2 separate regions of the Homo sapiens genome follow, and region 1 is linked to region 2. The links come from fine-mapping of genetic effects on gene expression. A gene starts in region 2. The other region holds a variant in brackets. All regions are shown on one strand. Distances are from middle to middle. Region 1 overlaps SLC2A12 (solute carrier family 2 member 12). Region 2 holds the start of SLC2A12 (solute carrier family 2 member 12).

What was found. PIP is the estimated chance that this variant, and not a neighbour inherited with it, causes the effect. A credible set is the group of variants that fine-mapping cannot tell apart.
Region 1: its variant is the best candidate, but not a certain one, in a credible set for the expression of SLC2A12 in cartilage (Steinberg 2020, PIP 0.53).

The regions. Positions count from the first base shown.
Region 1 is chr6:134,022,894-134,028,279 of GRCh38, forward strand. All of the region lies in intron 2 of SLC2A12 (solute carrier family 2 member 12), which reads right to left. Among named protein-coding and RNA genes, the nearest start is that of SLC2A12, 27 kb to the right of the region's middle. The variant A/C (reference allele first, on the strand shown) is at 2,977.
Region 2 is chr6:134,050,023-134,055,408 of GRCh38, forward strand. SLC2A12 (solute carrier family 2 member 12) reads right to left here and starts at 2,602. Exons shown (of 5, transcript NM_145176.3): 1 at 2,356-2,602. The coding sequence starts at 2,458.

The DNA.
Region 1 (5,386 bases), 27 kb before region 2:
CGGCAGTATTCCAAATAATCTGTTTACACAAGGACACTTGCCTAGTTAGTCTGTCTCAACCAACCAATAAGCTAATGCCAACTCCTGTAACAAACTCATGTTACCTTTGGTCTTTGTAACCTTTGGTTACAGTCTATGTGGAATTCTTTTTGTCTTTCAAAGCTCCCCCTTTGCCCCAACCCCCAGATATGTCTATGAACCATCACAGCATGCATATCACAGGTTTGCAACACCCCCGCTATTCCGTATTAAACTCTTTGCTTCGGAGAGTTGGTCACTCATTTTAGGTTGACAGTGGTCTGGAGGATGGATGGGTGTGAGAAGGGCCTGGAATAGACAATGACTTCTGGAAGGGTATCCCAGTAATCTGACAACGAGATGATAAGAGGTAGCATAGGATGGCAGATATAGGAAGGAAACCATAAAAGCAACAGCCGTTGTGATGATTGACTGAACTGAGAAAAAGCCCCAGAGCATCGCTCCGAGTGGCAGGAAGAGTGACTGCCCTCTAGAAAGGGAATGGAAGTGGTAAAGAACCCTGGTACAAGAGGAAAAGGAATTCAGCTTTGGGGTTGTTGTGTTTGGCTGACAGTGAAGCATGGAGGGGGAAAGGTTTAGTACTCATTGGGAAAAAAGGAGCTAGAAATCATGTGAGACGATGGAACTGGAAATAAGCGAGAGTCATCAGCTCAAGGGAGATAATTAACGTTCCTGAGAAAACAAGCATGAAAGCCTTTATAATGCATTAGCAAATGTGTTTTTCAGTTTTATAGCTAAAGAAACAGAAGGCGAGGAGACCTTAATGAAATGACCTCACCTCTTATTTTAGATGGAATGGAAGCTAGTCATATATTTGAATAATTAACATTTTGATTTTTAAAGTTTATCACAGCAATGGACTGAATTTAGGGCCCTTGACCTTTTGAAATTTTTTCCCCCACAGTCACGTGTATTCTCTCTTAGGCCAGAGTCTGTTACTGTGATGATTTTGTGCTGTGTTACTTAGCTAAGCTAGAAGGACATTTCCCAGAATTCCCTTCCCCTGGGTAGCTCTGGATTAGGGTTGGAAAGAAGAGAAATTTGCATGATTTGGAAGGCCAAAGTGACCCTACAGTGCTGTGCTTGAGGCATTGGTGCCGGGCCCTAGCCACCACCGCAGCTCGTGCACCCTGCTGCCGATCACTGGTTCCCCTTGTTGGAGTGAGGGCCCAGCGAGTTTGGCCAGATCTCCTCCTACAACTTCTCCAAGCACTAGACTGGGCTCTGGGAGAAGGCAGCAGTTTTTCTGCAGGTCGCCTGCCTCACTGGAGTGATGTGGCGAAAGACATGAGTGCTGCAGTTTCCTCCCATGGATTCCAGTTTGTCTACCGGATTCAGTGAGTCGTCTCTGCTTCCCTCTGCTTTGAGTCCAGCTTTTCCTCCGGCCTGCCCTGCTGCCAAGCAGAAGCTTCAGAAGGCCACCACCAGATGCCAAGACCGCAGTCTTCCACATACTTCTTCACCAGCTTCCCTCTGTGCCTTGATTAATAAATTTTTCCTTTTTCCCCAATTGTCCCCTTCTAGACCTTTGTGTTCTCAGCTTCTCCTACAATTGTGCGATACCAAATCCCTATAGGAAATGATTTGCCGTATCATTCACAGCAGTCCTAATTCCCTGCTGCAATTGCTCAGGCTGTCTACAGATTACCCAGGCCCTACTATACCCAATCTCCCTTTAGTTGACTGCACTCGTGCATTTTTACTTATTTCCAAGGGACCATTAGCTCTTAGTAAATGATGATGAGATTTTTAAATGCATCTTAATATGCGTGAGATTTTTAAATGTATCTTATATAAATGGTCATCATGATAGACTAGAAACCAGAATTGAATAATGTATAGAAAAACTATAGACTTCAGGTGTCTGACCCTGGGCACCTCCACAACACCCAGAACTACCCAACTCCAGCTATTAAGTAAGAGAGAAAGAAACTTCTAATTTGTTTAAGCCATTGTTATTTTGGGCCTTGTTACATCTGCTGAGCTTGAATTCTACATTCAGCATTTTCTCAATACGTTCAGTTATGAAAGTAAATGCACAGCAAAAACTCTCTTCTTGTTATTACCCTTCTTCTCTTTCATCCTATATCTCAGCCTTATAAAAAGTACATGTTCACTTACTTAGCAGAGCTTCAGAAAAGCAGAGACTATTTCTCTATTTTGCAAAATGCACAATGGTCCATTAGTATCCTGATGGATGGACAATGGTACACTATTTTTATTCATTCTTCCTCCTAGTGGACTTTCAAGGAGAAGAATGAACTAAAAATAATTAACATTTACCCTTAAGATCAACACAGGACTGCCTATTCCTGTCTTAGACTTGAGATTAATGTTGAATTTCAGAAGATAAAACATGTTTTCATTTATTTCAGCAAGTCACTTAATTTCTCTGAGACTCAGTATCTTCATTTGTAAAATGCAGTGAATATCCTTTCTTATCAGGCTTGTTTTGAAGGTAAAATGAAGTACTGCAAAGTACGTAAAAGCTGCCTAGCACAGTATTTGACATACTAGGTGTCAATAAATATTAGTGGAATCTAAAGCTTAAACCATATTTTAAAAAAATTAGCATAGAATGTTATTGAAAGACAACCAGCCGACAGAATGTTTTCTCTTTTGTTGTTTTGTTTTCTTTTTTTGGAGACAGGGTCTCACTCTGTTGCCTAGGCTGGAGTGCAATGCTCACTGCAACCTCTGCCTCCCAGGTTCAAGAGATTCTCCTGCCTCAGCCTCCTGGGTAGCTGGGATTACAACTGTGTGCCACAATGCCTAGCTGTTTTTTGTATTTTTAGTAGAGACGGGGTTTTCACCATGTTGGCCAGGCTGGTCTTGAACTCCTAACTTCAAGTACTCCACCAGCCTCGGCCTCCCAAAGTGTTGGGATTACAGGCATGAGCCACCACTCCCAGCCTCCAGTAATTTTTTCTAAAATCA[A/C]ATTTGGTTTTCTGAAAAGGAGAACTCTTGCTCTAATACAATAAGGTATCAAATGATGTGTTAGAGACTGGAAGATTTGCTGCATTTTTCAAAATTACCCCAAAACTAAAGAGAGATGGGTGGCATGAAATTGAAAGGACTCTAACCATGAGTAGGTTGGTTCAGGAGGCCTAAGATCAATGTCTCTCATATTGATCTCATATCATAATATGTGCCATGACATATACCCTTTTAACCTGAGAGGTTTTCTGAATTAGAAAGAAGAGGGTATCCCTTCCTTTTTTTGTGGCTTTTTCTTAGACTCTTAGCTAATCTTGACATTTCAAAAAATTGGACCAAGAAAATTGATGTACAAAGGAAATACTTTTAGTTTTATGTTGAATATACAAGAAGGACAAGAGATGCTAGCAGAAGAAACCAATGGAACAGTAACTACCACCTGAAGTTTATCAAATGAGCAAAGCTTATTGTACTTGTTAACATAGAGAAGTTTCACACCCAAATCTAAGGTGTTCCTTGGTACAAGACTGCACCTATATCTCGTCCTTCTGCTTTGAAGAGTTTCTTGAAATAAAAATGTAATAAAAATAAAATAAAGAAAATAATAAAAATGAAAATAAGAGGTTAGCTCAAATTTCATTAGCTTAAAGTGTCATAGTAGCCATATGAGTATCTCATAGGTATACACTCAAGATAATTGAACCCCAAAGTAATGGTAGAAATCTGTTTCCGGGAAACTGTTCATTAATGGTAATTATCATTGTTAAGTCTTAAAAAGCAGGTTTAAGGTTCAGGAGCAGGTCTGAGTCATCAGAGGCTGGTGGTATTGTAATGTTTACTCTATCTGCCCAAGCAGTCTTATAGCGGGAAATATGTCTACTCACAGTGCAGAGGAAGGGCCATGTCTTGGTCTTCCATGTCTTGGACCATGACCCAATCTTGCCACAGCTGTTTAGGCCTGAACTTCCATCTCTGACTTGGCACAGCAAAGAGCAGCGTCAATCAGATTTCACCTAACCCTTCTCTCTCTCTCTTTGGAATTTGAACAAATCAATATCTAGAAACTGAGTGCCCTTAGAAGTGGAATTAGAAGCTGAAAAATGAGGAGGTGGAGTTAGAGCAGGAGAGGACATATCAGCCATGTGCAAGTCTAGTTATTAATTGAGATTAAGCAGGCCAAACCTGCTGGTTGCTGACCAGAAGGAGGCAGATACAGAGAGTATAGCTCAGTCCATTCACCTACAATCTCCCTGAAGATAGGGACAGTGTCTGTCTTGGTCATTATCCTTTCCCCAATATTTGGCATAGTTCCTGGTTATGAAAAAAATTCATCACTCAATACATATTGCTTGAATTAATAGTTAATGAGTTAGCAGTGGATGACTAAAGCAAGCCCCTACATGGCCTTCTTTCCAGAAACCCTGTCCAGTACCTAGAACCAGAGCCCTACATCTCCCCATGAAATTCCTTCTTCAGCATAGCCTATACCTTCTTATTGGCCTGAACCTCCAATGTTTCCCATTATTTGAGCCAATTTGTTTGCCTCCTTGATCCTTTTCAACAAGTTTCAAAACCAACTTTGTGATAGAGAGGGAGAGACTTAGAAAGAAAGAGAAAGGAAGGAGAGGAATAAAAGAGAAAGAGAGAGAGAGGAATGGGGTAGGAGGTGGGGGTAATAGAGGCTACCTTTAAGCTTTTAAGTCCTCCTTTTTTTTCTAGTGAGGCGTACAAAAGACCCTTCACAGCCTCCCTACAGAGACATTCAGGCTTTAGATGTGAGGCTAATAGACAAGAGAACTACAACAAACAGCCTATTCTAGTAAATCCATCTCTAAAAGAGTTTGCCCAAGAGAGGTGTTTATACTTTGTCATTAGAGCAGACTAGTTATATAAAATAAAACCTCATAGCTATGTCCTTGTAAATTGTATTATGTTGAATGATAGCAACTAGACTTTCATGCTTCTGTTTAATGGACAAGAGTAAAGTGCCATGGGAGGCTACTCTAGTGAATAAGATGTACTCAAAATAGTAATAATAATACATCCTCCTTCTCAGCTCATAATGTCTTCCTTCTTTACTATCACTGGAATGCATCCACTATTGTGTCTTTAAGAAAATCTAAACCCTTGATTTTTTTCCTTCTACATAGGAAGAAACTCAGAGATGATATAGAGGAAAATGTTACCCATTTTATGAAAGCAAATTTTGCTTTCATAAAGCAATGTAATTCCCTTGGGCAATAAATATCTTTCCAGGTCTGGTTCATCCTCAATTAATGGGAATTAAAGTATCCTCATGTGACAGATAATGGGAAACTTATCTTTCAGTTGAATACTAGCCCTGTACTTTTCAGAAGCAGATATAAGCCAAGCATACTTTCTGCATTAGAAGGAACATCAGATGACCAAT
Region 2 (5,386 bases):
TGAAAACTATGGAAGTTGAAAATATGAAGAAGCCAAAAGGAGTATTTGACAAATATTACCTCATTAAATCTCAACACCTTCATAAAATAGATGAAGATACAATCCCAATATTAATGAATGGAGACTTTAAGTAACTTAAGAAAACCATACAGCAAGTCTGCACTATGCATTCATTTATACATATGTATGTATAATTGCTTTTGGGTGCCAAAAGATGTTTAAGATAAGTTAAGAAAATTTACAAAAGTAGAAAATAAAAGGTTTGCATTCATCTAAATGCAGATTATGTATAGCACAAATCAAAGTTGTATTCATCTGACATTTTAAGGAAACATTCAGGCTTTCTCTTCTACAAAATGAAAGTTAATTTAAAATTAAATTTGAAAGATAATTTATGGTACTTATTCATTTATTATTTCTTTACAACATAAACAGTTGCACTTTAAGTTGAATTTTGTGCATGTAACCAACTATTGCAAATGTAAATACACATTATCTTTCTTCTGGATAATTGTGAATTTGTACAATATAAGCTATTAAGAGCACATTGTACCTTCAAAGCCATATCAAAATAAACAGTCCATTTTTAATGGTTACTACAAAGGCTCTTCCTAGGCAGTTTCTTTTCATCTTCTTTGTGACATTATCACTGACTGTATTTAGTGAGCCCTTTTGTTAACATCACCACCTCAGCTTGCTCTGCAGTCTAGACTGCAGCTCATGTTCCCAGGAATTTGGAGAAAAGAACTTTGCAACTCTTTCCCTTTATCTCCAAATATAAGTTTCCCTTGCCTGCTCTTAGGGAACTTGTGGGCCAATGAGTAGCAAGCGCTTAGGGAAAAGGGTACTTCTGCATAGGAGAGGACAGGCCATATTGAAAGATGACCCCAGATATTCTTTTATTATTATTATTATTATTATGTTAGACAGAGTTTCACTCTGTCACCCAGGCTGGAGTGCAGTGTCATGATCTCAGCTCACTGTAACCTCCAAGTGATTCTTGTACCTCAGCCTCCTGAGTAGCTGAGATTACAGGCATGTGCCACTATGCTCAGCTAATTTTTTTATTTTTCTGTATTTTTAGTAGAGATAGGGTTTCCGCTCTGTTGGCCAGGCTTGTCTTGAACTCCTGGCCTCAAGTGATCTGCCCACCTTGGCCTCCCAAAGTGCTGAGATTACAGGCATGAGCCACCACGCCCGGCCTCATTCTTGACGAGAAGTGTGAAAGCAAGAGAAGAGATCAGGACATGGAAGATGGAGGGCTTCTCCACTCCTGAAGAGGGCCGCTTCATGCCTCGATGTTAGGGGTCACAGGTTCGATTCCCCAAGATCAGACAAACCCACAAGGCAAACGTCAGTATTAGGACCATTCCCAAGAGAAAGGCAGATGTCTTTTGTATCATTTAGTGTATTGGATTTTGCATGAAATTTCTATATGCTGCTTGGGAATGTAATATCTGATTAAGAATACACAGCTGAGGAAAGTAGTAGGAAAGAGAAGATTTTTTGTGTTTGTTGTCATTTCATATTACAATTACTTTCTATTCCTTGCAGCACAAACTAAATGAGCAGGAAGAGGCAGCAAAAAGCGTACAATGTATTTGTGGGAATTGTAAATGTGGAAGTGAAGACCAGCCTCTGATTTATCAAAGATCATTAAATGAATTAAAACTTTTCCAAATTTCACCTTCAGAAGGTCATCATAGCAAACAAACCTCAGTTTGCAAGGCCAGTTTTAAAGAAGGCAGAACCCAGCAAAGCAAGCGTTTCAGGCTCTGAATAACGCTCAAATTCATCACAAACGTGCTGGGAATTTAAAAAGGAAGTTTGTGTTCTCATTGATTACATAACTAATAATTTTATGAAGCCTGTTTAAAATACTGATTTTTAAAACAGTGGTTATAATGTCAACTGGTTACACAGTGTCCATTTGTGACAATAAATGAAAAAGTGTAAGCAAGCGTGTGCTTGTGTGTGTTTACAAATGAGACTATCTTTGCCAGTGGACCGTTCCAATATGAAAAACATCCATACATTGTATTATGTAAACACAATCAAGGGGACCCATCATACCAGTGGTGGATGTGTAACCTGTATTTTCTTGGCACATAAGGTTCCACCAAGACTTCGATCTTCACAACATTACAGCTCCGAGCTGTCCCACGTCCCACCAGACCCTGTCCCCTTCTCTCCACTCATCCAGCGCGCCCACATGCGCGCGCGCGCATACACACACACACACACACACACACACACACACACACACACACACACGGGACTCAAGAGACAGTACACTCGGGAGATGAGTACAGCTTGCTTCTCTGCGGTCACCCGAGCACTGCAGGCTCACTTTACCTCTCGCCCAGGGAGGATGCCGGCTGCCGCTGCCCTCCGTCTCCACGGCTGTCCCCTTCTGGTTCAGCAGACTGGGGCCCTCGGTGTTTTCAACAGGTACCATGGTCACGTAGAAGTTACAGCCGCTTCCCCGCCACCAAACCGCCCCGACCACCCCCGCTCCCAGGAGTGGTCACTTTCCCCATAATAGCATGCTAAAGAAGAGTGTGGGGAAAAACTTCGGGCAAAGCTAATGTGATTTGTGACCAACTTTGTTTCTATTTCCGAAGGCTTTGCCCTTTTCGGTGACACAGGCTGTTGCTATTCCAAGCAGCCTATCACAGGCAGGGGGAGGGCCGTGAGTCAGAGGATTGTTTTTGCCTTTAGATGCAGAGTTGGAAGCAAGGGGTTAAAAGAAAGGGAACTCAGACGGAGTGTTTGGCCATTAGCTAAGGGTAGCTCTTGTATTCTAGCACCTTTGAAAAGAGGCAGAGAAAGGAAACATGCAGATTTAAATGCAAGCTGAGAGTGGGGATAGAATACTCACAGATGGTATCAGTTAATCTTGCAGAAAGAGGAACAATTTATGCAAAGACATACCAGAAGGAAAAGTGTGTCAATTTTTCAGCAAGACTGTTATTCCAAAAGTCATGGTATTTACCAGCTTACACAAAGCATAAAATACCTTTATTGTTTCAACCTGATTTTGGTCTAGGTAAAGGCCTATATCTTTCTCTCCAAGGCCTTTCAGATAAATCACAGCCTGAGACCAAAAATACACAAACTCAGAATGCACAGATTCTTTAGACTTTTTATATGCTGAGGTTATAGCAAAGTAATCCATTTCTTAATGCAGAATTGTCTTTAAGAGACAAATTAACACTGAATCCTCTGTTAGGTTTCATGTTTGCGTAGGTAGGAGGAGGATACTCCTCACTCAGAGAGGCCAGACTAAGTGGCCCATTGTGTGCGTGTGGTGGACATGTAATCTCAAACAAAATCAGGTCATGAGAGAGGATCTTTTTCTGATTTGTGAACATATTTATAAAAAAGTCTTACAGGGTTATGACATTTTACCTTCAGTTATTCATTCAACAAATCATGTTTATTAAAAAAAAAAGCCTTATAGAGGAAATTGAGATCATCTTAAAAATCATTTGGAATAAAAACTAACATGTGTGGAGCACTTATGTGCCAGAAATTGTGCTAAGCGCAATAACGCAGATGATGACTTTGAGGCAGGTACCAACATTATAGAAGAGGAAATGGAGGTTGGGTAACTTGGCTACAGTCTCACAGCTAATCAGTGGTAGAGCTGAGATTATGAATCCAGGAGGTCTAAAGCTGTAACTCTCCTATATTCTAACTTCCCAGCCTTGTCCTTCTCTAATTTTCTTGGCTTCCTATGGTTTCAGACCTACTCGACTTTAAGAAGATGCCGTGAAATATGGCTTTTAGTCATAGGCATTTCTCTGGACAGAAAAACAAATTTGTGCTTGTATAAGCAGAAGCTAAATTTTTGTTACTTCTTTTCAACATTTTAACTGAATCACTTCAAAGTTCTAAATTCACTTATTTGTACATTTCCTTTGCTTGTCATTAAATAATTCTATATTTTTCTTATCTTTCAGGGAAACAGGTAGCAAATGGAAACAAACCTATAATAATTCAACTAGTCTTTATTATGTACCCGTTGTATGTCTGCTGATAGTGCTAGAAAATGGAAGTCCTCCAGGCATAATCCAGGCCCCTTATGATTAAGAGGGTGAGAAGTTCAGAATCCCACACATCAGTGTCCCCACTAAAGAATGTGTAACGCAACCATGGTTTGAAACAACTCATTTTATTTGTTCCCAGGGTGCATTATAATTATATAGGAGTCCCAGTTTCTATCTGTGAGACACATATGTTTCCCATAAGTTCTCTATATTCTCTTGGCTTCTAACTTCTTTCTGCTCAGAACCAATGACCTCATTAGGGGGAAAATGTTCTTGCAATGGGTTAGTTGTATCATTGCTTTGTTTCGTGATCCCACAACCTGTGTTTCTAGCAGCTTCTTGGCCCCATGGGAGTGTTAGAGTGTTTGCTATAGTGCTTGACTAGACAGAAGACAAAACTAATTCCAGAATACTTTACTATGGTTAAAAGCAGTTCAACAGTTCTCACTCTGTTTTGTGTAGCCAAACCATACAGGAGATCCACAGGCATAGTAAGCCAACCAGGAGTCAAAAAGAATGCTCAGCAATGCAACTGACAACATCACCTCCTGGTGCTCCTAATTCTGTTCTTTATTCTGCTGGTGACCTGACCGGGGCCACTGGCTATCTCAAGCTCTGTTTGTACTTACCTCAATCTCTTAACTCAGAGAAAAGTTTAGGGGAGAAAATTTTTTTCACCCAGACTAGAGGGGGGAAACTCTGCCTCAATTCTGTTACGAACCCTGTACTTCTCCTTCCCAGCCTTTTGCACACCATAATGTATTTAATACAGTTAAATGCGGTGATTCAATTAAATCTGCCTTTTCTGCTAGATTGCAAACTCTATGAGAGTATGGACTATGTTTGTTTAGTTTATTATAGTATTCTGCGTGTCTGGCACTCAGCAAATACTCAGTAAGTATTTGCTGGCTGACAGACTGATCCCTGTAAATCCAATAAACTTTAGCAACACTAGAATGTATGCTCCAAGAGGGCAGGCACCTATTTCTATCTTGCACATTCGTCCAGCTCCTAACACAATGCCAGGCATGCAGTAGACACTTAATAAATATTTGTTAGATAAATGAGTGCTCACAAATAGAGCTTTTAGTGACTAAATAACTATTTAGTTTTTAAATATTAAAATCCATATGATGATTGCCTATGACATTTTGTCCTTCCTCTCTGTTTCTGCCAATTCCTTTAGACCAAGTATAACCACAGGCTATCCATCTTCCCTGGAGTTTGAGCCACTTCCATTATTAAAATCTGTTCCTCCACTCAAGGAATTCATAATCAGCAGACAGCAGACAGTTCATTCTTCATAACCCCAATAATTTTGCTACATACCACTT